Linked DNA regions of Homo sapiens. Changing the gene in region 4 together with the main gene of any one other region gives a genetic interaction. Each region holds a gene or a part of one and is shown on either strand. Other genes may lie near its edges. The genes, in order: FDPS, EGFR, GNL2, XPO1, RIT1, EIF3C and KRAS.

Evidence for each region.
Region 1: changes in XPO1 (region 4) and FDPS together harm fitness more than expected from each alone (negative genetic interaction), as found in Homo sapiens cells (one large-scale study listed by BioGRID).
Region 2: changes in XPO1 (region 4) and EGFR together harm fitness more than expected from each alone (negative genetic interaction), as found in Homo sapiens cells (one large-scale study listed by BioGRID).
Region 3: changes in XPO1 (region 4) and GNL2 together harm fitness less than expected from each alone (positive genetic interaction), as found in Homo sapiens cells (one large-scale study listed by BioGRID).
Region 5: changes in XPO1 (region 4) and RIT1 together harm fitness more than expected from each alone (negative genetic interaction), as found in Homo sapiens cells (one large-scale study listed by BioGRID).
Region 6: changes in XPO1 (region 4) and EIF3C together harm fitness more than expected from each alone (negative genetic interaction), as found in Homo sapiens cells (one large-scale study listed by BioGRID).
Region 7: changes in XPO1 (region 4) and KRAS are lethal when combined (synthetic lethality), as found in Homo sapiens cells (2 studies listed by BioGRID, with this or other methods).

What each region holds. Positions count from the first base shown.
Region 1 is NC_000001.11:155,314,747-155,318,865, reverse strand, and holds part of FDPS (farnesyl pyrophosphate synthase), read right to left. Parts: intron 2,013-4,119; exon of another isoform or gene 926-2,012; coding exon 845-925; intron 698-844; coding exon 575-697; exon of another isoform or gene 470-574; intron 202-469; coding exon 113-201; intron 11-112; coding exon 1-10. UniProt on the Homo sapiens protein: Key enzyme in isoprenoid biosynthesis which catalyzes the formation of farnesyl diphosphate (FPP), a precursor for several classes of essential metabolites including sterols, dolichols, carotenoids, and ubiquinones.
Region 2 is NC_000007.14:55,158,304-55,162,422, reverse strand, and holds part of EGFR (epidermal growth factor receptor isoform a precursor), read right to left. Parts: intron 2,285-4,119; coding exon 2,085-2,284; intron 925-2,084; coding exon 792-924; intron 1-791. UniProt on the Homo sapiens protein: Receptor tyrosine kinase binding ligands of the EGF family and activating several signaling cascades to convert extracellular cues into appropriate cellular responses.
Region 3 is NC_000001.11:37,568,816-37,572,245, forward strand, and holds part of GNL2 (nucleolar GTP-binding protein 2), read right to left. Parts: intron 488-3,430; coding exon 36-487; intron 1-35. UniProt on the Homo sapiens protein: GTPase that associates with pre-60S ribosomal subunits in the nucleolus and is required for their nuclear export and maturation.
Region 4 is NC_000002.12:61,531,588-61,535,706, forward strand, and holds part of XPO1 (exportin-1), read right to left. Parts: intron 3,092-4,119; exon of another isoform or gene 2,836-3,091; intron 2,317-2,835; 5' UTR 2,311-2,316; coding exon 2,185-2,310; intron 1-2,184. UniProt on the Homo sapiens protein: Mediates the nuclear export of cellular proteins (cargos) bearing a leucine-rich nuclear export signal (NES) and of RNAs.
Region 5 is NC_000001.11:155,901,350-155,904,849, forward strand, and holds part of RIT1 (GTP-binding protein Rit1), read right to left. Parts: intron 3,456-3,500; coding exon 3,382-3,455; intron 3,154-3,381; coding exon 2,962-3,153; intron 1-2,961.
Region 6 is NC_000016.10:28,709,897-28,714,521, reverse strand, and holds the start of EIF3C (eukaryotic translation initiation factor 3 subunit C), read right to left. Parts: upstream 3,059-4,625; 5' UTR 3,004-3,058; exon of another isoform or gene 2,866-3,003; 5' UTR 2,836-2,865; coding exon 2,735-2,835; intron 822-2,734; coding exon 756-821; intron 614-755; coding exon 424-613; intron 202-423; coding exon 76-201; intron 1-75. UniProt on the Homo sapiens protein: Component of the eukaryotic translation initiation factor 3 (eIF-3) complex, which is required for several steps in the initiation of protein synthesis.
Region 7 is NC_000012.12:25,226,569-25,230,687, forward strand, and holds part of KRAS (GTPase KRas), read right to left. Parts: intron 845-4,119; coding exon 666-844; intron 1-665. UniProt on the Homo sapiens protein: Ras proteins bind GDP/GTP and possess intrinsic GTPase activity. Plays an important role in the regulation of cell proliferation.

The DNA.
Region 1 (4,119 bases), on a different chromosome or scaffold from region 4:
AGATTTGTACCTGAGTAAGGGGAGAAGAGAAACTCCTCAGGAGGGCAATGCACATCCTGAGCCCTCCCTCGCTGTCCAGACATGGTTCGCGCTGTCCCTCACCTCCCCTCACCTCTTTTCAGTGAATCTGACAAGATCCACATTGCCCTGGGGGGCTGTGAGGAGGTCCAGGGTCTGCCCAATCTCAGTCTGATAGGAACTCTAAGCAAGACAAAGACGGTCCATGAGCCAGGCTTTCTCCAGATATGCGAAACCCTGGTATCCCAAGCCCAACATCCCATACCAGCTGACAACTGGGCAGAATCAGAAAGGCAACAGAAGGGGAGAAAGCCCCAAAACTTAAGGCCCATATTCATACACACAGTCCTTTATCACCCTTTCTTCCAATTACACAGGACAGAGAAGCCCTTTCTTGCCACTACCACAACCCCACTTCCCAACACCCTTCCTCGCTTTCTTTCCCTTCCAGGCACGCTGCAATCCTGTACCCTGAAACCAGCTAGATGAGCATGTCCTATAGAGGCCAAGGCTACCATGGGCACCCTCTGGGCATCGGGCCCTGTCTGCAATACACCTGCAGGAAGAGCTCGATCAGGTTCAGGTAATAGGGCTGCTCCCGGCAATAGAGCTTCAGCAGGCGGTAGATACATGCTTCCAGGAGGTTAGCATCATTGATGGCATCCAAACCCACGCCCGGCTGTCATGACAGACAGAAAAACAAGCAATCAATCTCTAGTCTCGGTTCATACTAAGAGCCATCACCCCAACACCTCAACCAGGCCATATATAACCACCTCCCTGTGGCCTGTCCCCATACCCACTGCTATTTTCCTGCCCACATTACCTTCTGATACCAGCAGATCTGTCCCCGGCGGGTAAGGGATGAATCCATGATGTCATCTGCCACCAGGAAGAAAGCTTGCAGCTAGAAAGAGTGGAATAAGACCTGCAGGGCTCCTCATTACTGTTCCTTCTATCAGCAACAGAGCTGCTACTTTATATCTGTATATAGTTTTGCTTTTTTTTGGTAGGGGACAGAGTCTCACTATTATCCAGTGCAGTGGTGCAGTCACAGCTCACTGTAGCCTCTAACTCCCAGGCTCAAGTGATCCTCCCACTTCAGCTTCCTGAGTTCCTGAGACCATAGGCACATACCCCATGCCTGGCTATTTTTTTTTTTTAATTTATTTTTTGTAGAGACAGGGTCCCACTATGTTGCTCAGGCTGGTTTTGAACCCCTGGGTTCAAATGATCCTCCTGCCTCAGCCTCCCAAATTACTGGGATTACAGGCATGAGGCATCACAGCCGGCCAGAGCTGCTGCCTTTGACAGTCCCTATGAGCTGGGAAAGTCAGGATGGGGAGACAGAAGACTTCTGTGCTATGGAGACTTGGAAAGTGACATAACATGTTTGGCTCAGACTCCCCGCCTATAAAATGGAACTAAAACACTCTTGTTTTAGGTTAAGAAACTAGAACAGATCTTTGACATCTCTAATGAGCCCTAGATTATTCCTGGTGTCAGGGAGATTAGGAAACACCTTCATATACCGTACTCTATTCTTGCCAAAAACCTCAATGAATGCTTAAAGTAAGATCTATTCATGAAACTGACTTCACATTACTTCCTAAATAAAAGAAGGCTATTCCCACATTGCCCCCAGCACTGTGTTTGAACACCCTGGTGACTAGGAACACAGCCTTACCTAAAGCAGCTCCTTAGCAGTGCAGGTCTAATAAGGTGGAACTGAAATCTGACTTTGACCTATGAGTCTCAGACATCTTTAAACATCTTTAAACATTAACTAAGGGCTTACTCTTCTGAGTGCCCATCTGAAGGTACCTGAACGTGTCGGGTTTCCCACTAGACCATGATCTCCTTGGAAGCAGGGACAGTAACTTCCCCCTCTTAGCATTTGCAGAGCCTAGCACAGCATTAGGCCTGGAGTGAGAGTTTCCTAAACACTTGTCTGACAAAGAAATTAATAAAACACTCTAACATTCCCTGTGATACTTCTTGCAGTCAGTCAAACTATGTTTTGGTTCCTTAAATAGCTTTTCTTTTTTTTTTTTTTTGAGATAGAGTCTCACTCTATCACCCAAGCTGGAGTGCAGTGGCGCCATGTGGGTTCACTGTAACCTCCGCCTCCCAAATTCAAGCGATTCTCCTGCCTCAGCCTCCCAAGTAGCTGGGACTACAGGCACCTGCCACCACCAACTGCTAGGCCAGCTAATTTTTGTATTTTCATTCAGTAGAGACTGGGTTTTGCCATGTTGGCCAGGCTGGTCTTGAACTCCTGACCTCAAGTGATCCGCCTGCCTCGGCCTCCCAAAGTGCTGGGATTACAGGCGTGAGCCATCGTGTCTGACCATTAAATAGCTTTTCAAGACATGGTTTGGGTTGCTTTTTTAAAGAGACAAGGGTCTTGTCATGTTGCCCAAGTTGGACTTGAACTCCTGGGCTCAAGTGATCCTCCTGTCTCAACTCTTGAGAATCTAGGGATATAGGCACACACCAGCGCACCCAGCTCAAGACATGGTTTTTATTTTCATAACTTATTTCCTTTTTTTGTTTTTCCACTTCTAGATACATACCCAGGTTTTTGTTTTTGAGATGGAGTTTCACTCTCATTGTCCAGGCTGGAGTGCAATGGCGCAATCTCGGCTCACTGCAACCTCCGCCTCCCGGGTTCACGCGATTCTCCTGCCTCAGCCTCCCAAGTAGCTGGGATTACAGGCACGTGCCATCACACCCGGCTAATTTTTGTGTTTTTAGTAGAGACAAGGTTTCACCATGTTGGTCAGGCTGGTCTCGAACTCCTGACCTCACGTGATCCATCCACCTTGGCCTCCCAAAGTGCTGGGATTTTAAGTGTGAGCCAATGCACCCGGCCCTATACCCAGGTTTTAATTTTTATTATTATTTTCTTTTGAGACAGGATCTCACTCTGTCACCCAGGCTTGAGCAGAAGACATGGTTTGTGTGTTTTTTTTTTTTTGAGATGGAGTTTCGCTCTTGTTGCCCAGGCTGGAGTGCAATAGCGCGATCTTGGCTCACTGCAACCTCCGCCTCCCGGGTTCAAGCGATTTTCCTGCCTCAGCCTCCTGAGTAGCTGGGATTATAGGCATGTGCCTCCACGCCTGGCTAATTTTTTTTTTGTTTTTTGTTTTTTGTTTTTTTTTGAGACAGAGTCTCGCTCTTGTTGCCCAGGCTGGAGTGCAGTGGCACAATCTCAGCTCACTGCAAGCTCCGCCTCCCAGGTTCACGCCATTCTCCTACCTCAGCCTCCCAAATAGCTGGGACTACAGGCGCCTGCCACCATGCCCGGCTAATATTTTTTTTGTATTCTTAGTAGAGACGGGGTTTCACCATGTTAGCCAGGATGGTCTCGATCTCCTGACTTCATGATCCGCCCGCCTCAGCCTCCCAAAGTGCTGGGATTACAGGCATGAGCCACTGCGCCCAGCCTAATTTTGTATTTTCAGTAGAGATGGGGTTTCCCCATGTTGGTCAGGCTGGTCTCGAACTCCTGACCTCAGGTGATCCACCTGCCTCAGCCTCCCAAAGTGCTGGGATTACAGGCATGAGCCACTACACTTGGCCTAGAAGACATGGTTTTTAAGACTTTATCCCATCCTAATCCTGTGTGCTGTAGTGGATCCACATTGCAAAGGAAGCATGCAACACCGCCTGCCAGAGCCCAGCATGGGCCGTGGGGAAAGGACCGTTGCAATCACTGCTGTTATAGGCAGGGTCCTCAGGGAAGGAGGCATCCATCTGCATCTTTACCTCTGACCTAAACTCAGAAGAGTAGTGTGGAGGTCCTGGGCTTTCCACATCAAAGGCACATGTTTAATTGACTCTGTGTTTATTTGGAGTAGCATGGTTTCCCTGAAGCCACCCATTCACTGCCTCTCCCAAGGGTGACTGCAAGGACAATCTTGTTTCAGCCACCACCACTCAACCATGATGGTCTCCAAGATAATTAATTCCATGGCCTCCCCAAATTTCCTCTGCCTCCTAGCACTGATTCTTAACCCCACCAGCACTTTCTATTTATTAGGGAAATTAAAAAAAAAAAAAAAACCCAGGCCAGGCACAGTGGCTCACACCTGTTAT
Region 2 (4,119 bases), on a different chromosome or scaffold from region 4:
CTCTTATCCTGCTCCTAAATATTTCTGGATCCAAGCTGTGGTCCATGCCCAGAGAGTAAAACAGGAAGAATTCCTACAGCCATCTGTAATTCCTATGGTGCTCACCAAATTTCCCTTTTTCTTTAAATCTTCTAAAACATGGCCTTGGCCTCTATCCTTCAGTTTTACTTTCCTATTTATGTTTTGTCCTCATTTGTCGTTCAAAGCCTTACATCAATATCAAGAACCTCAGAGCATTCACAAACTGCACTTTTTATTGATTGCAACTAAATTCAACAAACATCATTATGAATTATTTCTTTGTCCGTGGGTATATTTAAAGTCCCTGGTACTGTTTGATGTTCAACACATGCTGGGGGCACATAAAACAGATATTAACTTGGCAATATAATTTGTGTTAATTTATTTTCACACACCAGGAATCGGGCACTACAAAGAAAAGCCCAAATGGCCACGGTGTTGGCTAGATGAACCATTGATGACTGTCTCATTTGTCTTAGGAACTTTTTGTAGCTTAGAAAAATTTAAGATACTTCCAGGAAAAGAGATTCTATAAATTATTGGATTATATTAGGCAATAATACTTGCTTATTTCCTATTGTGCTTAAATTTGCCAAAAATAACGCAATCAAACAACTTCCCGTCTCCCCACAGAAAACCCAAAACCTCCAAAAGCCAAGGGCAAAGAATAAAAGGAAGAGAAAATCAAACAGAATGCCTGTAAAGCTATAACAACAACCTGGAGCCTTATTTTTGATCAACGCAAGGGGATTAAAGAAATAACCTCCTACCCCTCCAGAAGGTTGCACTTGTCCACGCATTCCCTGCCTCGGCTGACATTCCGGCAAGAGACGCAGTCCCTGGGCTCCGGGCCCCAGCAGCCCTCGGGGGAGCACAAGGCATGGCAGACCTGGCCTGTGGCCTCTGCGGAGACAGAGTGGGTCACAGCAGTCAGTGACAGAGCAGGGACCCGAGGGGCCGGAGGAGACGGCACCTTCCCGGGAGGGGCCCTGTGCTCCATGACCTTGGGTGACACAGACATGCTGGCTACCCCTGAAGGAGGAGGACACAGACTGGGCTTCCCAGAGGCCGACCGTGACTGGAAGGACAAAGTAGTTGTGCTGGCTGCTGGGAAGACTGAAATGTGCCTGACAGTGGAGGACAGGTCTTCCTCCTGGTGGGAGCCAGGCACCCTGGCACCCGAGAGGGGGTGCCGTGAGTCCTCCCCTTTGGCAATGGCATCAATTAAACCAGATGGGACTCCATGTTTTCTGTGCTCCCACGGCCACTGCCCCTGCTGAAGGAACCAGGTGTGCAGAGGAGCAGGTGCTGCTGGGCACAGGGTGTGTTTTGATGGTACCCAGGGCAGCCTGGAGCAGAGCTGGTGGTGTTCTGATGACAAATCCCACAGCTGATAGGAGCCATTGGGCCATTGGCTGTGTGCTGTGTGCTAGGCACCATGGAAGGGTTTTACACACAGGAATTTCACTGAATTCTCTCAAAGCACTACGGCGTAGGAATCATTCATATCTCCATTCTATGGATGAGGAAGCCAAAGCCTAAACAGATTAAGGGAATTGACAGAGGCTCAAAGCTAGGGAGGCCAGACCAGCACTTGACTCAAAGCTGACGCTGCCCGTGGCCAAGGCCCAGCACAGGCCAGGCTCTCACCAGCTTCAAAAGCTGAGGCTCTAGAGCCAGAACAGGAAGTGTTGATGTAAAGTGCTCATTCCATTCCTCTGTGTGTGTATGTGTGTAGCTGTAGTCTTTACAGGCTGAAATGAGCAGAGAGTGACCTACAACTAAAAGGTAATATAACTAATACTAAATTTAGTTACTTACATTACAAATAATTGGTAGCCTAAACCTCAGGGTAAATTCATCCCATTGAATGGTAATGATCTGGAAAAAGTTTTAATGGAATTCACATGGTAATTTCACAGTTAGGAATCTTAAGATTTTAATTTGCTTCTTAAGGAACTGAAAAAAGTAATTTAAATGGGAATAGCCCTTCAATATTCTAAATACAAATAAAGGACCCATTAGAACCAACTCCATAAACTAAACAGAAAGCGGTGACTTACTGCAGCTGTTTTCACCTCTGTTGCTTATAATTTTGGTTTTCTGACCGGAGGTCCCAAACAGTTTTTTCCAGTTTATTGTATTTGCATAGCACAAATTTTTGTTTCCTGAAATTATCACATCTCCATCACTTATCTCCTTGAGGGAGCGTAATCCCAAGGATGTTATGTTCAGGCTGACGACTGCAAGAGAAAACTGACCACTACATTGGAGAGAAGAAAAATCATGTGGTGAAAAATTATAAAAACAATGTATCCCTGAAAACTTTGTTTCTCCAGACCACCTTTGATTGACTACAAACTGCTTTCCAATGATGGTAGGTCATGCTGTGGGAGGCACACACTGCACCTTTTGAAAACTGCAGGTGTTTTTAAAGTTCCTCCAGGCAAAAGATAGTTCCTTGTTTATTTAGTATCTTTAACCCAGTGGCAGATGGGGAGGATGAATAAAATGCCTTAATGTCATTATATTTTCTCCATTTTCATTTTGCCTGGAAATTGAGAACATATTCTAACCTCTCAAACAGCCAAATACACTTCAAAGGTGTGGGTTCATCCATCTATCCACCACCCAACCTGTCCCTCTATCCATTCATATATTTATTGAACAAACACTAGAGGTTCTCTGTCCCAAATTCTGTGCAGGTTAAATATGTTTCCTCCTCTCCAGGACGCTTGATCTGGTGGTGACACAACCCCGTAAGCAGATCATTTTGAGCCGGTGTGAAGAGCACAGTGAGTGTGGGCAACATGGAAGCAAAGAGCAGGGGCCTCTGACCAGGTCTGGGAGGGATGCCTGGGAAGTGGGGCCTTCCTCCAAAAAGCTATGCCCAAGGTTGTGAGGCCCTGAAAGCAGTAACTGTGGCATTTTCTTCACCATCCAACATGACACTAGGATGCTATTGGGTGGTCCAATGTGTATATCAGATGACTGGATGGAAGTCATTCAGACCGAAGGGGGGATGTCCTCAGCCACCTGGAGGAGCAGGAAAGCACGCGGTGGACATGAGAACCACTAGCCCCAGCCAGACCACGATGGGTGTGAGAACCACTAGCCCCTCCTGAACCACGATGGGTATAAGAACCACTAAGCCCCTGCCGGACCACGATGGGTGTGAGAACCACCAGCCTCTGCCAGACCACGATGGGTGTGAGAACCTCTAGCCCCTACAGGACCACGATGATGCAGGCTGGGAGGGCTGGGCTGGTTTGGGGAGGGAGCACAAGGCCAGAGTGCACCTTGTGGAGGAGCTGTCTGTAATTGAGAAGGAGCCACAGGAAAGAGATCTGCATTTGCAGGAAGCTCTCATCTGACCCCAGGCTGGGGGCTGGGCCAGCTGAGAGCACTGGATGAAGAGACTGATGTTCAGGTGTTGGATGGCAGGGGGTTAGAGTATCATCCAGAGGCTTCTCCTCTCCCTGCTGCTCTTCTTTCCCCCATCTTTTTCCTTTCTCCTACACAGATGAGTGGTCTCGCATAGGAGCCTGTAACCAATACCATTAGGAATTCTCCCCCACATATGCCCAGGGAGGCCAGGACACCAGGGCAGAGCCAGGTTTTCCTTGCAGGGCAGGTCTGGGGCCTCAGTGAGTCACACCCTGGAACGTGTGGCCACCCTGTCTCAGTAGGAGCTGGAATCACCAGACTTCTCATTAAATGTGAAAAGTAAGTAACCCTTATCTTGTTTAAATCCCTACAACTAAGCCAACTGGCTCATACCAGCCATCCAAGAAAATTGCTCTAAATCTCTTATTTTTATAAGAATCTTGGTCAAAGAAAGCATTCCAGAGAATTCAGAGCAAAAAGGCCTTTCTGGGAAGCAACGGTAGCCACATATTTAGTATCAGAGATTCAGAGCCAAGGGAGTTTATGGGAGGCAATGCATATTTCACGCACTCTTATTCTCTTTAATGTTGCACAGTATTATCTAGTGCTTTAAGAGTCAAGTAGGGGCAGCAGTTCTCATAACGAGGCTGCTTCCAAGGCGGGTTTCACTAAGAGATTCCCATCTCCTCCTCCACACCACTAAACTGATGA
Region 3 (3,430 bases), on a different chromosome or scaffold from region 4:
AAAATCTGCAATTTGTGAGAAGATGAAAATATTACCTGACTGCTGAAAACTTTTTGGCTTTGGCTTTGTCTAGAAACTTCTGATATTTGGCAATCTTCTCATCCAGTGCTTTAATAACGGCTTTGGTGTCGTTTCCCACATTTTCCTCCTCAGGCTCCGAGGAAGACTCTTCCGCATCATCTCTTTGTTGCTCCTGTTCCTCCTCCTCTTCATCAGAAAAGCTCTCAAGCTCTTCCTCAAGATCTGACACCTCCACAGGAACCAGGTCATCCCCAGAAAACTGAGGCACCACGTTGATTTTACCAAAGTTCTGCCGAACTCGTGTGAGAATCTGCTGCATCTCTGTGTTAGCATCACAGTGACTGTTCTCTTCTGTTTCTTCCTTAATGATGGATTCTGACCCTTCACCTGCAGTTTCTGTGACTTCCTCCCCTGGATTGTTCTGGGCTGCTTCTGGGACAACTTCCAAAGATGAGGAGGGTAGAAGCTATTAAGGGGTGGAAATGGGGGAAATAAATAGAATCAGAAAATGAAAAATGGAATTTCTGAACTCATATCTTGCTCTTAAACAGTCCTCTTCTCAGGACTAAGGGAAGGTATTGAAAACACCCAAATTTGAGTCATTTCATTAATGTATTTTTAAACCAATGTACATTAAGCCCAGAGATCAGTACTAGGATCAAAGGAATACATGTGTAGTTCCACAGGATGAACCAACTAAGACTATTTAAACCATTAAAACCAACCAATGATTTATCATAGAAAAGCAAGGCTCCCTAGACCTTCCCTAGGGGGCTGCTGATATAAGCACATGCAAAATCAGCACACACAACTACATAAAAATGAAGGCCAGGCTGGATGTTACAGATGAGAACAGTACTAAGAGAGGCATTTGAGGAGGTCCTCTGATTTAAATGTGTCCCCCAAAATTCATATGTTGGAAACTGGTATGGTTTGGCTGTGTCCAAATCTCATCTTGATTTGTAGCTCCCATAATCCCCATGTGTTGTGGGAAGGACCGGGTGGGAGGTAATTGAATTATGGGGGCAGGTCTTTCCCATGCCGCTCCTATGATGAATTAAGTCTCACGAGAGCTGATGGTTTTATAAAGGGCAGTTTCCCTGGACACACACTCTTGCCTGATGCCATGTAAGACATGCCTTTGTTCCTCCTTCACCTTCCGCCATGATTGTGAAACCTCCCCAGCCATGTGGAACTGTGAGTCCATTAAACCTCTTTTTCTTTATAAACTAACCAGTCTCATGTATTTCTTCATAGCAGTATGAAAATGGACTGATACAGAAACTTAATCCCCAATGCAGCAAGTGTTGGTAGGTAAGGCCTAATAAGAGGTAATTAGATCATGAGGGCTCCATCCCCATGAATGGACTAATGGATCTCGGGGATGGGTTCGTTTTTAAGAGTGAGTCTGTTGGCCGGATGTGGTGGCTCACGTCTGTAATCCCAGCACTTTGGGAGGCCAAGGTGGGCAGATCACAAGGTCAGGAGTTCAAGACCAGCTTGGCCAACATGGTGAAACCCCATCTCTACTAAAAATACAAAAATTAGCTGGGCCTGGTGGCATATGCCTGTAGTCCCAGCTACTCAGGAGGCTGAGGCAGGAGAATCACTTGAACCCAGGAAGCAGAGGTTGCAATGAGCCGAGATCGTGCCACTGCACTCCAGCCTGGGCAACAGAGCAAGACTCCGTCTCAAAAAAAAAAAAAAAAAGAGTGAGTTTGTTATAAAAGCAAGTTTGACCCTCTCTTGCTTGCTCTTGTCCTCCCACTTTCCACGATGGGATGACCCTTGTCAGATGCTGGTGCCTTGATACTGGACTTCCCAGCCTCCAGAAACATGAGCCAAAACAATTTCTGTTCATTATAATTACCCAATCTGTAGTATTCTGTTGCATCATCACAAAACAGACTAAGATAGGAGGCATCCTGAAGCAAGAGTATAAGGTAAGGAGGGGGAATTCTGTGATTGAAGAGAGTTCATTAGAGAACTAAGTCTGGGGACCCTGAAATGACTGGCCTGTTTTAGGTAACCGCAAAGATAAGTATGTGCCAAGCTTTCTACTGGTGTTTCACATGTATAATATCATTTTATCCTTGCAACAAAAACTCAGAGAACTTAAAAGTGATGTTCTAAAGTCAAGAGTGGCCGGGCAAATCACTAAATAAGTACAGAACTATAAAATTCAGGAAACCACACACAAAATTTATACATACATTTTTCTAGGAAGGGCAATTTTTGGCTTTCAGTTTCTGAAGGGGTTTCTGCTCTTAACCAAAAAAGAAAAACAGAATCACAGAGTAAGGCATATGAGAGTGAAACTGCCTCCAAAGGGTTGACAAGAAGTATCTGCCAAGTTCTGGACAGAAATACAATTATAATTAAGCACTAATTAGGGGGCACTTTGGCCCATATCCTTGTTGCTAAAAGTTCCTGAACACTAGGTACTGACCATTTGCATCCCCACTGTCCCTATAGATAGGATTTCTGACATTTGGGTCATAAGACTATGTAAGAATTGATATGCACCCCCATTGTTCCTATAGGCAAGATCTCTGACATTAGAATCATAAGGTTTTTGTTTAAGGATTGCTTAAAATGTCTTTTCAGATCCCTAATTCCAGCAACCAGTTTGAAGATCCCCAGAGAAACGGGATCTGCATGAGAACACAGCTTCTTCATCTCCCTGTCCGTGACTTCACCCTGCACTCTTCACCCAACCAATGACCCTCACTCCAGCCCACTCCAAAACCCTTAAAACCCTAACCCCAAACTCCTCGTGGAAATGATTTCAGGATTCCTCCCATCTCCTCCTTTGGTGACCCTACGGTTAAACTTCTTTCTCTGCTGCAACCTGGTGGTGTCTCAGCATATTGACTTGCTGTGTGCATTGGGCAACAAATCTATTATGGTTACAATAGTTCTTAAGAATTATCTGAACTACTTATCTACACTTACTGACTACATACGGAGGAAGGGCTGAAGACAATGCCAGTGTTTCCACACAGGGTCCCAAGACAGCAGTGATACGGACATCCAGAATGACCCTAGAATCCAGCTGCTAACTCAAAACCTCCAATGGCTTCCCACCATGACACCCTCTCCTGGCCCACGACATTCCAGCCACAGTGACCTCCTTTCAGCATCAGGACACACAGAGCATACTCCTGCCCCAGCTGCTCTGGATGTGCTGTTCCCCTTGCCTGGAACATTCTCCCTAGATACTAGCATGGCTCCTGTCTCATATTAAGGGCTCTGCTGAAGTGCCACTGCCTCAGAGGCCTTCCCCGACCACCCCAAAGTACTCCTCATCTCCCCCAAACCCCTTAGCCTGGTTTAGTTTTCCTCACAGCACGCAAGACTTCCTGACATTATATGTTTATCTGCCTACTGTCTCCCTGTGATATAAATG
Region 4 (4,119 bases):
GATTAAACAGTATTAGTAGCTGAATCTATGCGGAAAAAATTAAATGCCCTTTTTCCCAATGGCTACAGACCTGTGCTTCCAATATTACATTCAGAGTTGAACCCAACCTTACTTTCATAGCTTCCTCCAAAAGCAGCTGCTTTCTATGCATCCATGCTAGAAGAAATGAAGCTTAAAGCTTCATGTTGAATGTATAGCATGAGTAACAACTAAATGACAGGGATAATAAATACGGATGGTTAATTTTTTCAAGAATGCTTTAGGAGATAATATACTGATCAAAACGCCCTAAAAGTATAAACCTGGGCTAACAAGCTTACAGAATCACTGCAAGAGTAATTTTTTCTACTTTTAGCGTTTCCATGGACCTTTTTCAAGTTTCTACTATAGTAAAAGCAGTACTGTTGCATTTCATAAGGGAATGGAAACATTTATACATGATGCTTTTTGGACTACTATAAAAGATAGTACTGTATCCACCTTATATATTTTCAGAAAGTGTAATGGCACTCAGGTTTAGGTTTTTTTATTTTATTTTATTTATTTATTTTTATTTTTGAGACGAAGTCTCATGCCGTTGCCCAGGCTGGAGTGCAGTGGCGCAACCTCGGCTCACTGCAAGCTCCGCCTCCCGGGTTCACGCCATTCTCCTGCCTCAGCCTCCCGAGTAGCTGGGACTACAGGCGCCCGCCACCACGCCTGGCTAATTTTTTGTGTTTTTAGTAGAGACGGGGTTTCACCGTGTTAGCCAGGATGGTCTCGATCTCCTGACCTCGTCATCCGCCGGCGTCGGCCTCTCAAAGTGCTGGGATTACAGGCGTGAGCCACCGCGCCCGGCCGGCACTCAGTTTCTTAATTATGCAAATATAAATATCTTGACAATATAAGTAACCTCCCATCTACTAGCTGAACATTTATCTAACCAGAAATCTACTGTTCTGGCAACAAAACTACCATAAAAGATTTCTGGCCAGGCGCGGTGGCTCATGCCTGTCATCTCCACACTTTGGGAGGCCAAGGCAGGCGGATCACGAGGTCAGGAGATGGAGACCATCCTGGCCAATATGATGAAACCCATCTCTACTAAAATACAAAAAATTAGCTGGGCATGGTGGCGCGTCTGTAGTCCCAGCTACTCGGGAGGCTAAGGCAGGTGAATTGCTTGAAAACCTGGGAGGCAGAGGTTGCAGTGAGCCGAGACTGTGCCACTGCACTCAGGCCTGGTGACAGAGCAAGACTCCATCTGAAAAAAAAAAAAGATTTCTGACCCAACTGCAAAACTTTTTACTCATTCAAAAACATGTTTGGGCCAGCACGCGGTGGCTCATGCCTGTAATCCCAGCACTTTGGGAGGCCGAGTCAGGTGGATCACCTGAGGTCAGGAGTTCCAAGACCAGCCTGGCCAACACGGTGAAACCCCATCTCTACTAAAAATACAAAAATTAGCCAGGCATGGTGGCGTGTGCCTGTAATCCCAGCTACCAGGGAGGCTGAGGCAAGACAATCGCTTGAACCCAGGAGGCAGGGGTTGCAGTGAGCTGAGATAGCGCCACTGCACTCCTGCCTGGACCACAGAGCGAGACTGTCTCAAAAAAAAGTTTGGCCCCACAGGTAAAAAATCAAGTTTTTTTTCTTGTGACATATACAATTTAAAATTGTACACACATTTCTGTTTCACCTTTTAGTTGGGTTCAAAAAAACCAAAAATCTTAAACTGATCAAAATTTGGTTTATGTTTAAGATAATTCCCTACATTAACAGTACCACTTTGAAAAGTGCACAAAATTCAACTAACATAAAAATACTTGGTATTCCTGTTTTTATTTAAACAAACATATCTGTGAAGTACTTCTGTAAATGTTTTAAAAGTAGAAGAATCGTATTAGTGCCAAACATATTAAGTATATATAAAAGTACAGAGAACCTTTAATACCTACAAAGTATTTAATAACATTTGGCTCTTAAGGACAAAACAAGTATAATATTCCAAAACAACCCACTCTAACCATGTCAAACATGCAATTTCTTTCTCCAAACCAATTTTCATTATGGTTAATACAGAATTCCAAATTAATGCAAACTATGGAATATCTTTTTTAAAGGTGATAATTTAAAATTTTATTCTAAACCCAACAACTCTGTTACACTGTCATAATGTTATAAAGTTTTGGTTGGCTACTTTACCTGGGCTCCTTCTCCATGGTATAAGCAATTCACCACATTATCTAATAAGTTGATATCCAGTTTTTGGCTGAAATCAAGCAGCTGACGAGCTGCATGGTCTGCTAACATTGTCATAATTGCTGGCATAGATTACTGAAAATAAAGAAAAAAAATTGAAGCTGCCTATCAAGTTTTGGTATTATCAAAAACTTCCTACAAGTTATTTTACTTCAACCATGTTATTACAAATATTTTAATGAATACTTTAGAGACTTTAATTACAGAAAACTGAGATAGTAAAAGCAAGTAACAAAAGCTGAAATTACTTAGCTATTTGATAATTACATAAATTATTATGGTCCATTCAACTTTTCTAGTGTTTAGTTTATACACCAGGAAGACTTTCCTATTCTACTAACATTTATAAAGTATGCTAACCTATTATTTAAACGCATCCACTATTAGGATTTTATGGTCCTAAAACGTGATACAGTTCAGTATCTTGATGTCAAAACTTTTTAAGCAAGTAGGATTAAGTTCAAGTGAATGTGATTTTCTTTTCTTCCCAAGTAGGGTCTTCTGAATAACTCAGTAAAAGCTCACTTCACATTATCTTAACTTTATAAAAATAATGCTATAAAGACAGAATGGGCCGAGCGTGGTGGCTCACACCTGTAATCCCAGCACTTTGGGAGGCCGAGGTGGGCGAATCACTTGAGGTCAGGAGTTCCAGACCAGCCTGGCCAACATGGCAAAACCCCGTCTCTACTAAAAATACAAAAATCAGCCAGGCATGGAGGCGGGCACCTGTAATCCCAGCTACTTGGGAAGCTGAGGCAGGAGAACTGCTTGAACCCAGGAGACGGAGTTTGCAGTAAGCCGAGATGCACCACCACACTCTAGCCTGGGCAAGAGAATGAGACTCCATCTCAAAAACAAACAAACAAAGACAGAATGATGTTAAAAATTAAAATGTGGATATACAGTAATTCCTATTGTCTACAGCAATGGTTAGCAGGAACCACAAGTCTAACATATCTTGGTATAAATGCCCTTAGCCTCTACAGAAATAACTTAGCTTCTACACTCAAACCATTCAAATTGTTTCAACCCTCAATGAATTGGGGGATTGAAATAAAGCTACAAACATATTTACTGAATATATGATCTAGGAAAAAAAACTTTATGGGCAATATGCCTAACAAGATTTTTTAAATTCCAGGTATTCATTGGCAAGGTAAAAGCTGTAAAAGCTTGCCCATTCCCAAATAAAAAAGAATTCTAACAGAAAAATGAGCTACTTCGCCTAAATATGCACTGGTTAAAACCTACTAGTTCATATGCAGTGCTATCCTTTTAAGAGGATTCTACTCTAAGATGCTGGCACACATCCACTTTTTTGTTGCCCAGAATTATAAAATATATCTTTCCTCTGCTTTTCTTCAAAGCCAATGCCACTCAAACCTAATTGGTTAAGTCAGTAGTCCTTAACCTTTTTGGGGGTCTAAGATGCCTGAGACTCTGAGGAACCAATAGCTCTAACCCAGTTTTTAAAAACTCACGATTTTGTATACAATTATAGAGGATTCAGGACATCCTGAAAGCCATCCATGGCACTCCCAGTTTAGTGTATTTAGAACTAACAAGGTCAGATCTCCACTTCTTCCCATTTTAGGAACTTTCGTGGACCAGAAAATGAGTAGCTAATTTCTTTACATTATATTTAGACAAACTAGCTTGGCAGGGCGGAAAAAAAGTCATTAATTCCTGGCTATTTTATAACAGCTTAAAAATGTCCATAACAATAATGGCAGCAAATTCTATTTTAATGCAATTGTCTTATTTAAATATAACGTCTGTTACAACAGATTAGAACTCCAAAAGATGAGTCACCTATGATTGATATGATGTAAAAATAATGTAAAACTCAAGAAATTAGGAGTTCAAGAATTGGTC
Region 5 (3,500 bases), on a different chromosome or scaffold from region 4:
ATTTAGCTGGGGCCAGGAGCGGTGGCTCACGCCTGTAATCCCAACACTTTGGGAGGCTGAGGCAGGTGGATCACTTGAGGTCTGGGGTTCGAGACCAACCTGGTCAACATGGCAAAACCCTGTCTCCACTTAAAAAAAACTAGCTGGGCATGGTGTTGGGCACCTGTAATCCCAGTTACTCGTGAGGCTGAGGCAGGAGAATCGCTTAAACCTGGGAGGCGGAGGTTACAGTGAGCCAAGATCGCGGCACTGCACTCCAGGTGTCACACTCCAGCCTGGGTGACAGAGCCAGACTCTGTCTCAAAAAAAGAAAAAAAAATTAGTTGGATGTGGTGGTATACACCTGTGGTCCCAGCTACTCAGGAGGCTAAGGTAAGAGGATCACTTGAGCCCAGGAGGTCAAGGCTGCGGTAAGCCATGTTTGCGCCACTGCACTCCAGCCTCAGTGACAGAGCAAGACCCTGTCTCAAGAAAAAAAAAAGTTGGGTGCGGTGGCTCATGCCTGTAATCCCAGCACTTTGGGAGGCTGAAGCAGGCAGGCAGATCACCTGAGGTCAGGAGTTCAAGACCAGCATGGCCAACACGGTGAAACCCCATCTCTACTAAAATAAGAAAGAAACACTAAACAATACAACCATGAAACTGATCACCGGGATTGCAAATCTAATTGGGAAAAGAGTTGAGCAAACAGCTTGGACTGTTTGGAGTTGTTGCCTTACTTTTTAATATGTATTTATAAAGTATTCCAGCAAAAGAGGATGTAGCCTCTGGGAAAAAACAAACATGTTACAGTGTTTTTTGTAGATTCTCGTTCTATATCTCATCACAGTGCCAGCCCTGTTTTTAGCCGGAAAGGATTCAGGAGAAACATTATTATGCATTCTGAACTGGATGCATATTCCTAACTACTGTATTTGTTACCAAAAGTGGTTCTACAAATGCTACTGAAAAAAATCTGGAAATTCCTAATGTCCTGAGTATTAATAATAAAGTTTAAAAATGCTTTTATATCAAAAAAAAAAAAAAGAAAAGAAAAATTAGCTGGGCATGGTGGCAGGCGCCTGTAATCCCAGCTACTTGGGAGGCTGAGGCAGGAGAATTGCTTGAACCCAGGAGGCAGAGGTTGCAGTGAGCCAACATCATGCCACTGCACTCCAGCCTGGGTGATAAGAGTGAAACTCTGTCTAAAAAACAACACAAAACAAAAAAACGCTGGGTGTGGTGGCTCACATCTATAATCCCAGCACTTTGGGAGGCCAAGGTAGGTGGATCACCTGATGTCAGGACTTCAAGACCAGCCCGGCCAACATGGTGAAACCCCGTCTCTACTAAAATACAAAAATTAGCTGGATGTGGTGGCAGGCACATGTAATCCTAGCTACTCAGGAGGCTGAGGCAGGAGAATCGCTTGAACTCAGGAGTCAGAGAGGTTGCAGTGAGCCTAGATTGCGCCACTGCACTCCAGCCTGGGCAACAGAGTGAGACTCTGTCTCAAAACAACAAAATTAAAATAAAAATTAAAAAAAAAGAAAGCTGGGCGCGGTGGCTCACGCCTGTAATCCCAGCACTTTGGGAGGCCGAGGTGGGAAGATCATGAGGTCAGGAGTTTGAGACCAGCCTGACCAACATGGTGAAACCCCGTCTCTACTTAAAAATACAAAAATTAGGCCGGGCGCGGTGGCTCATGCCTGTAATCCCAGCACTTTGGGAGGCCGAGGCAGGCTGATCACGAGGTCAGGAGATCGAGACCATCCTGGCTAACACGGTGAAACCCCATCTCACTAAAAATACAAAAAATTAGCCAGGCATGGTGGCGGACACCTGTAGTCCCAGCTACTCGGGAGGCTGAGGCAGAAGAATGGCATGAACCTGGGAGGCAGAGCTTGCAGTGAGCAGAGATCGTGCCACTGCACGCCAGCCTGGGCGACAGACAAGACTCCGTCTCAAAAAAAAATTAGCCGGGCGTGGTGGCATGCGCCTGTAATCCCAGCTACTCAGGAGGCTAAGGCAGGAGACTCACTTGAACCCAGGAGGAGGAGGTTGCAGTGAGCCGAGATTGTGCCACTGCACTCCAGCCAAGGCAACAGAGTGAGACTCTGTCTCAAAAAAAAAAAAAAAAAAAAAAGAAAGAAACACAAAGGGAGGGAAAGAGATATATGCTTACACTAAAATATTGAAAACTATTAGGAGCCCATAATTGATACATCTAATTATGGATATGCCATAATTTCTACTTTTGGACAGCTAGATTGTTTCTCATTTTCTTCTACCATAAATAGTCTTGCAATGAACATGTTATATATAAATCCCTATAAATTTTTTCCAATGGAGATTAACAGAGAAGCATTATGAATTTGACTACTATCAAACTACTTCCAGCCAGGCGCTGTGGCTCACACTTGTAATCCCAACACTTTGGGAGGCCAAGGCAGGAGGATCACTTGAGTCCAGGTGTTCAAGATCAGCCTGGGCAACATAGTGAGATCCTGTCTCCACAAAAAGTAAAAACAATTAGCTGGGAGTGGTGGCACACGCCTGTGGTCCCAGCTACCCTCAAAGCTGAACTGGGATGATTGCTTGAGCTGGGGAGGTAGAGGCTGCAGTAAGCTGTAGCCCCAACCTCACTGCAACCTCCACCTCCCCAGGTCAAGGGATCCTCCCACCTCAGCCTCCCAACTAGCTGGGACCACATGTGCATGCACCACTATGCCCAGCTATGTTTTTTTGTATTTTTTGTAGAGATGGGGTTTCGCCATGTTGCTCAGGCTGGTCTCAAACTCCTGACCTTAAGCAACCTGCCCACCTTGGCCCCGCAAAGTACTGGTGTGAGCCACCTCACCCAGCCTGATTTTCTATTTTAAGGCAAAAAAATCTGTAAGCCAAGCCAAGAATCTGTAAGCCAAGAAACAAAAATGACTAATTGTATAAGATTATAGACAGTATTTTCTTCTCTATCCTCACCTGTCTTAGCTGTTTGAGGTCTGACTTGTTTCCCACAAGAACCACAGGTGTATCGTCAGTACGTCGGACTCGATAAATAAGCTGTTTAAACTCACGAACTTCATGGAAACTTCGACGATCCGTGATAGAGTAACAGATGATAAACCCTTCTCCTGCCCTCATATACTGGTCCCGCATGGCTGTAAACTCTGCCTAGAGGGAAACAAGGGTCATTATGTATTGACGCAATCTAGCCCAACTACACACACAATTAGCTATTTCTTTCAGATTAAAGAAAACGCATGTCGATTACCTGCTATCCTGAGTCAGAGTGCATGAAAAATTAAGAGAGATAAACTATTGATCTTCTCTGTGTAGGCCTTCCCCTCCCCTTTGCTAGAGTAAAAAAGCCTTTACTCATAACATTCTGGGATTTAATACCTGTCCAGCTGTATCCAAAATGTCCAGATTGGCAGGCTCATCATCAATACGGATCCTGATCTTATAAGCATCTTCTACAGGAGGGAAGAAAGGTGTACTATAAAGTCATAAATGCCGGA
Region 6 (4,625 bases), on a different chromosome or scaffold from region 4:
TAGCAATTCCATCTTTGGGCCTCAGTCACGGGGTCACTGTTCCCAGTTCAGTAAGTGTGCCTCTAGCCTCCCCACCTGCTTGTAGCTTGTGATATGGGACTCGAAATCACGGTTGTATTTTCGGATCTTCTGACGCAAGGTGCTCAGAGCCTTGGCATTGTTCTTGTTCATCTTCTTCTTCCCTTCCTTATCTTCCCAAAGCTAAAGGGAAGAAGAGGAAAGAAACAGAGAACAGTGATTTGAAACTAAGTAACATTTCCTAAACTCCAGGCTTCTTCTCCACTTTTGAGTCTTGCTATTGGAACACCACTGGTACTACTTATTAACTACATCTGTTAGCTTATTTTTAAAAGATCCTATACATCCCACCACTAAAAGTACAAAACCATGAATAAGTGGTGGTAATAAATATAGGCATCACACCTCATTAAGATAGTCCTCTAGGTCAGCCAGGATGCGGATATAGAACCGGGGGACACCTTCTTTGTCCACAATGCTTTTGGCCTTCCCATATGCTTTTCCCAGGAGCTCAAACTCTTCCAGGCACTTGGTGACATCACGAATCTTCATGGCATTACGGATGGTCCGGATAAGGTTGGTCAGCTCCTCAAACCTGGGTTGGGAGCCCGATACCACATTGAACGTGCCCACCGAGGGAAAACTCACCACTGCTCCCAGAGACTCCTATCACCCAGCCTCCCCACAGCTTCATTGCTCCCAGAGACTCCCATCACCCAGCCTCGCCATGGCTTTACCTCTTGTCCTTGGCACTGCGGACAACTCTCTTGGTATCTTCTTCATCCTCGCTCAGCAACAATGGCCTGTTTGGAAGGAACAGAGGCCATTAACCTCCTTTCCCAGTCTTTCCAAGAGATCCGTATTTCCCTACTCAGGACAGGTAGAACTAAGTAATCCAGGCCATCCACACCACACCCATCCTCTTTTTGACTCCTCCTCAGGGCCACTTCATATACAACTCAATCTTTTAAGTGTACACTAAGTAAGGCCTTTTGCTCAGTGTTGTAGCAACACAAAGATGACATTCACTATCCTCTCAAAAACAAATGAAAGTGCTAATTTACTGTGTAACTAATGACATAGAGACACAAGTCACCACAGAAGTAATGAATAAAAAAAGAGGTAGAGAAAAATGATACTTGAGCTATAATGAACAGAAAAGGCTTTAGGGAGGTGGTACCTAAACTAGATCTTAGCAACATTTCCCAAAGTATGAGAGGCCAACAGCAAGGAGAAAGTCTCAATGGTATTAACACCTCCACTGCTAGTATTTTTCTACGATAATAAGACCAGACCACAGGCTCACAGTCAGCAACAGTATCTCTACTCTTTTTGTTTGTTAAGAGATAAGGTCTCACTATGTTGCCCAGGCAGCCTCCAACTCCTGAGTTTCAAGGGATCCTCCCACCTCAGCCTCCAGAGTAGTTGGGACTACAGGCATGCACCATCTTGCCTGCCTCTTTTCCCTTTTTATTATTTTTTGGATTATTTTAGCGGTGTTTTTTGAGGTGGAGTTTTGCTTTTATCGCCCAGGCTGGAGTGCAATGGCGCAATCTCGGCTCACTACAACCTCCGCCTCCAAGGTTCAAGAGATTCTCCTGCCTCAGCCTCCTAAGTTGCTGGGGTTACAGGCATGTGCCACCACAACCGGCTAATTTTTGTATTTTTAGTAGAGACGGGGTTTCACCTTATTGGCCATGCTGGTCTCAAACTCTTGACCTCAAGTAATCAGCCTCCCAAAGTGCTGGGATTACCGGCTTGAGCCACCTGCCCAGCCTGGATTATTTGGTATTTTATGGCAAATGACACTGGTTTCCACCTGTGGAAGTGATACGAAACCATATGCATATTGGCATATACATGTGCAATACATACTTTTAAAACAGTAGCACAAACGTGGCAGATGTTTAAGAAACACCATTCCAGTGGGGCACAGTGGCTCATTCCTGTAACCCCAACACTTTAGAATGCTGGGCGGGAGGTTCACTTGAGCCCAGGAGTTCAGAACCAGTCTAAGCAACACAGTGAGACACCTTCTCTACAAAAAATTAAAAACAATTAGCCTGCTGCGATGGCGTGCACCTGTAGTCCCATCTACTTGAGAGGCTGAGGTGGGAGGATCGCTTGAGATCTGAAGGTCGAGGCAGCAGTGAGCTATGACCCCTCAAAAAAAGAAAAAAAAAAGGAAAAAGAAAAACCATTCTATTGTTCCAAAGGGTAAAAAAAAAAAAATTAATGTACAGAAATGGCGGATGGGTATTTACGTAGAAGTGAACAGGCATAGAAAATGTTTAAGCACCTGCGTACACAGCAGGTGACCAGACTTCAGAGTCGCATCAGGGGGCTCCCAGATACCAATCAAGCATTTTGCATTTCCTTCTGTGAGCAGTGAGAAGTCACTAAGGACTTCTCGGCGGTAAAATGAGAGGAGACAGGTAGAGGCTGTAGACTTAAGGCCAGTTAAGAAGCTGATGCAACAGATCTGGCTTGGGAAACCTCTGTGATTCTATCCCTTGTGCCTGGTGGGTGGCTACCGGCTATCACAGCCCTCTAAGGCTGTCTCTCTCCAACACCGCTCCGATCCTGCAAACTCTGGTCATTGTCCAAACCCACTCTCCCCGCCCTCACCTCCATCCCCTCCCATGTGCACTGCGTTCCACAGCCTGCCTAACCCCGCACTCCCAGAATGGTCACAGCCACAGCCCCCGCAACTCACTGTTTGCCATAGTTGCCTCCGACAGGTTTGGTGACGAGCTCCTCCCCGGACAAGGACGACTCGGACTCGCTGTCCGAACCGGTGGTGAAAAACCGCGACATGGCGACGGCGCGGAGGTGCTACGGCCGGACCTGCGGGGGAGCCAAGGCGTCACCGGCCACGCGAAGAGGCCCGAGCCAACACCTCCCGACGCCCAACCCCTCACCGGCCCCACCCGGACCTCGACCTGGGTCTCCCACCACGAAGCACGAGGCCCAAAAAATACCAACCAGCTGAGCCCGCGAGTCACACCGCAGGGCCCTGACAGCGGAAACGCCGAGAGAGAAGGCGGGTCCTCGCGTCACTTCCGGGAAGCGCCGACTAACTACACTGGGAGACTACAACTCCCAGTGGCCTTCGCGCCATAAGGGGGCGGGGACAAGCCTGAGGGAACCGGGCGCTGAGACCTTGGCTGCAGGCGTCGCGAATCCTACCGCGCGTTGGTGTCGGGATTTAAAACACGAAGATCGGCGGGGCGCAGTGGCTCACGCGTGTAATTACAGCATTAATAGGCATTAATAGTATAGAAGTAGATAATCCTGCCGGGTGCGGTGGCTCACTCACGCCTGTAATCCTAGCACTTTGGGAGACCGAGGCAGGCGGATTACCCGAGGTCGGGAGTTCGAGACCAGCCTGACCAATATGGAGAAACCCCATCTCTACTAAAAATACAAAATTAGCCAGGCGTGGTGGTGCATGCCTGTAAGCCAAGCTACTCGGGAGGCTGAGGCAGGAGAATCGCTTGAACCCGGGAGGCGGAGGTTGTGGTGAGCCGAGATCGAGCCACTGGACTCCAGCCTGGACAACAAAAGCGAAACTCCATCTCAAAAAAAAAAAAGTAGACAATGCTAGCCAGGCACAGTGGCTCACTCCTGTAATTCCAACACTCTGGGAGGCTGAGGTGGGTGGATCACCTGAGGTCAGGAGTTCGAGACCAGCCTGGCCAATATGGCAAAACCCCGTGTCTACTAAAAAATACGAAAATTAGCCTGGCACAGTGTCACCTGCCTGTAATCCCAGCTACGTGGGAGGCTGAGGCTGGAGAATCACTTGAACCCAGGAGGAAGAGATTGCAGTGAGCAGAGATCACACCACTGCATTCCAGCCTGGGTGACAGAGCAAGACTCTGTCTCAAAAAAAAAAAAAAAAAAAAAAAAAGTAGACGATGCTAGATCTTGCAGGTCTTTATAGGCCTGTGGTTTGGAGCCGCCATCGGCAGAGGTTTTAGTGCAAGGGACTGTGTTACATTTTTCAAGGTGGTTTTGATATGGGAGCGGGACAGGGAAGTGCTGGGAAGGGAAGAGCATGCTCTTCCAAAGTGCTGGGATTATAGGCATGAGCTACCACACCTGGCCGTTTTGTTTTTTATTGTGAAATATTTCAACAGACAAGAATAAAGACTATTCCAATGGACATCTATGTACTCACAACCCACCCAGCACCGTCAAAACTTAATATGAGGCTGGGCATGGTGGTTCATGCCTGTAATCCCAACACTTTGGGAGGCAGAGGTGGGCAGATCACTTGAGGTCAGGAATTCGAGACCAGCCTGGCCAACATGGTGAAACCCCATCTCTACTAAAAATACAAAAATTCGCCTGGCATGGTGGCAGATGCCTGTAATTCCAGCTACTCAGGAGGCTGAGGCAGGAGAATTGCTTGAACCCTGAAGGTGGAGGTTGCAGTGAGCCAAGATCGTGCCACTGCACTCCAGCCTGAGCGACAGAGCAAGACTCTGTCTCCAAAAAAAAAAAGTTAAAAAAAAAAACCAAGGGGTTCATTGTACGTCTGTAAATCCATAAATATCTTTTTTTTTTTTTTTTTTGAGATGGAGTTTTGCTCTTGTTGCCCA
Region 7 (4,119 bases), on a different chromosome or scaffold from region 4:
GTTCTTAAATAAAATGTTAAACTTCTTATAACTAGGCTAACTCGTTATTATATGACATAGCCACTGAGTGATTCATTTGCTTAATATGTAGTTTTTGGAAAACTAAACCCTCAAAGAAATAGAATATAAAATAGTATAATAATGATTATTTTAATAGTTTTATGCAGCTTTGTCAGATTTAAGAGAACTGTAATGCCCAAATTCTTCAATCTTTCAAAACTTTTATTTTTTAAAATATATAATGCCACTGTTTATCCAATCCAAGCAATTCTATGCTATACACACGATTGCTTTTAAGACTGTTAAAGTGACACCATCTCAAATCATCTTTTCATATTCTTTTTTATGGTTTTCTTTTTTAATGATGTATCTAAAAAGTTTAAAGTCTTGCTTTTGTAGAATAGTCAAGAGTACAGAAGGCTGTGGAGTCAAACAGGCCTAGGTTTCAATCCCAGCACCACCACTACCGATGCAGTCTGGAGCAAGTTACTCCACTGCTCTAATCCCCCAAGAACTTCATTTATAAAACAGGGATATTACCTACCTCATAAACATTATTTAAAAATTTTTATTAAATATTATATGCATGGCATTAGCAAAGACTCAAAAAATAAAAACTATAATTACTCCTTAATGTCAGCTTATTATATTCAATTTAAACCCACCTATAATGGTGAATATCTTCAAATGATTTAGTATTATTTATGGCAAATACACAAAGAAAGCCCTCCCCAGTCCTCATGTACTGGTCCCTCATTGCACTGTACTCCTCTTGACCTGCTGTGTCGAGAATATCCAAGAGACAGGTTTCTCCATCAATTACTACTTGCTTCCTGTAGGAATCCTGAGAAGGGAGAAACACAGTCTGGATTATTACAGTGCACCTTTTACTTCAAAAAAGGTGTTATATACAACTCAACAACAAAAAATTCAATTTAAAAATGGGCAAAGGACTTGAAAAGACATTGTTCCTGCTCCAAAGATGACGGACAAATGGCCACTAAGCACCTGAAAAGATGCTCAACATCATCAATAGTCAGGAAAATAAAATCAAAACCATGAGATGCTACCACATACCCATTAGGATTGGCTATTATTAAAAAAACAAAACAAAAAAACTCAAAAAATGGAAAATAAGTGTTAGCAAGGATACAGACACTGAAATCTTTGTGCATTGCTGGTGGGAATGTAAAATGGTGATGCCATTGTGGAAAACAGTGGTAGTTCCTCAAAAAGTTAAACACAGAATTACCATATGATCAGCAATTCCATTCCTAGGTATATAACCAAAATAACTAAAAACAGGGACTCAAACAGATACATGTACACCAATGTTCGCAGCAGCACTATTTATAATACCCAAAATGTGGAAATAACTTAAGTGTCTGTTAACAGATGAATGGATAAACAAAATGTAGTATATACATACAGTGGAACATTATTCAGCCATAAAAAGGAATAAAATTTCATATAGGTTGAGCATTAATGCAGGTTAATCCAAAAATCTGAAATCCAAAATGCTCCAAAACCTGTAACTTTTAGAGCCTGACATGATGCTAAAAGGAAATGCTCACTGGAGCATTTGATTTTGGATTTTTTTTTCTTTCATCTTTTTTTTTTTTTTTTTTTTTTTGGAGAGATAGGGTCTTGTGTTGCTCAGGCTGGTTGAACTCCTGGGCTCAAGCGATCCTCCTGCCTTGGCCACCCAACGTGTTGGGATTACAAGCATGAGCCACTGAGCTCCATCTGATTTTGGATTTTTGGACGAGGGATGCTGAACCAGTTAAGTATCTATGAATATTCCAAAATCCAAAAAAAAAATCTGAAATCCAAACCACTTCTGGTCACAACCATTTTGGATAACGGATGCTTCAACCTGTATATACATGCTACAACACAGATGAACCTTGAAAACATTATGCTAAATGAAGTAAGCCAACACAAAAGGACAAATACCACATAATTCCACTTATATGAGGAACCTAAAATAGGCAAATTCAAAAAGACGAAAAGTAGACTACAGATTACCAGGGGCTGGGGGAGGGAGGATTACTGGGGACTATTTGACAGGTACAGAATTCTAATTTGGGATGATAAAAAAAAGTTCTCAAAACAGATAGTGCTAATGGTTAGACAACATGGTGATGGTTGCACAACATTATGAACACACTTAAGGTCACTGAATTGAACACTTAAAATTAACTACCATGGTCTAGGCGCGGTGGCTCACACTTGCAATCCCAACACTTTGGGAGGCCGAGGTGGGCGGATCATGAGGTCAGGAGATCAAGAACATCCTGGCCAACATGGTGAAACCCCATCTCTATTAAAATACAAAATATTAGCCGGGCGTGGTGGCGGGCGCCTGTAGTCCCAGCTACTCAGGAGGCTGAGGCAGGGGAATTGCTTGAACCCGGGAGGCGGAGGTTGCAGTGAGCCAAGATCGCTCCACTGCACTCCAGCCTGGCAACAGAGCAAGGCTCCGTCTCAAAAAAACAAAAACAAAACAAATGAAAGAAAACTACCATGGTAAACTTTATGTTATGCATATTTTACCACAAAAAAAAATTTTTTAAAGGTATTATATGGAGAGTCAACAATGCAAGTGTACATGCTGGTAACAAAAAGTTATTGACAAAACAAAATAATTTCAAAAATGGGATAGCTCTACCAACTCTATTATTCAAGATGATTTAAATGACAAGAAAAATCAATCAACTTATAAATAATTGTCATGCATCTATTTTATCTATAGTCAAAGGCACACATAAGGAAATGGGCAATACTCAAGATTCTAATGGCCTCATCCACTTCTGAAAACTGTGGAAAAATAATCTAACAGCCAGATGGATATCTCTAAAGAGCAATATTGTTTCATCTGCAAATCCTGAGGGGCCTCTTTTTTCTTTTCTAAAAAGAGAGAGAACTGCAACTATAAGATTAAGTAAAAGAAGGGAGTGGGTAACTTTAACAGAATCTTGAAATAAAAATCTGATTTTCTTCTGACTTTTGGGTAATACTTCTGCTCAAGATTTCACACATTCTGCCAAAACAGTCCTCAAAAAATATGGTAAAGGGATGTTACAATGTGAAGCCATGAAATCATGAAATAAGAAGCAGGGCTAACAACAGGTATAAAGCATAAACATAAAAGCAATTATTTTCTTAATGTTCCACATGTAGGCTATAGTATTAATGTATCTTTTTTTTTTTTTTTTGAGATGGAGTCTCGCTCTGTCGCCCAGGCTGGAGTGCTGTGGTGCAATCTCGGCTCACTACAACCTCTGCCTCCTGGGCTCGAGTGATTCTCCTGCCTCAGCCTCTTGAGTAGCTGGGATTCTAGGTGCACGCCACCACGCCCGGCTAATTTTTGTACTGTTTTTTTAGTAGAGATGGGGTTTCACCATGTTAGTCAGGCTGGTCTCTAACTCCTGACCTCGTGATCTGCACGCCTCAGCCTCTCAAAGTGCTGGGATTACAGGCATGAGCCACTGCGCCCAGCCTCTAAAGTATGTTTAGTTTATGAATTACTCTGTAGACCATTCTATCAGAGGGAGAAAGAGAGAAAGAATGGTCATTACAAATGTTGTTAGTAAAGTATTTCAAAATGTTTACAGTATAAGGAGAATATAAAGATGTCTAAGTGCAGCATGATCACAATAATATGTGTTTATGTATTTATACAAATCTACTATGTGTTTAAAAACTGGTAATATATACATCAAAATGTTATAAAGGTTATGTCTTTAATGGAGATAATTTAAAAGACATTTATCTTGGCCGGGTGCGATGGCTCATGTCTGTAATCCCAGCACTTTGGGAGGCCAAGGTGGGCAGATCACCTGAGGTCGGGAGTTTGAGATCAGCCTGACCAACACGGAGAAACCCCATCTCTACTAAACATACAAAATTACCTGGGCCTGGTGGTGCATGACTGTAATCCCAGCTACTCGGGAGGCTGAGGCAGGAGAATCACTTGAACCCGGGAGGTGGAGGTTACGGTGAGCTGAGATTGTGCCATTGCACTCCAGCCTGGGCAACAACAGCAAAACTCTGTCCCAAAAAAGACATTTATCTCTTGCTTATCTCTTTTCTTTGTACTAGATGCTATGTTAAATG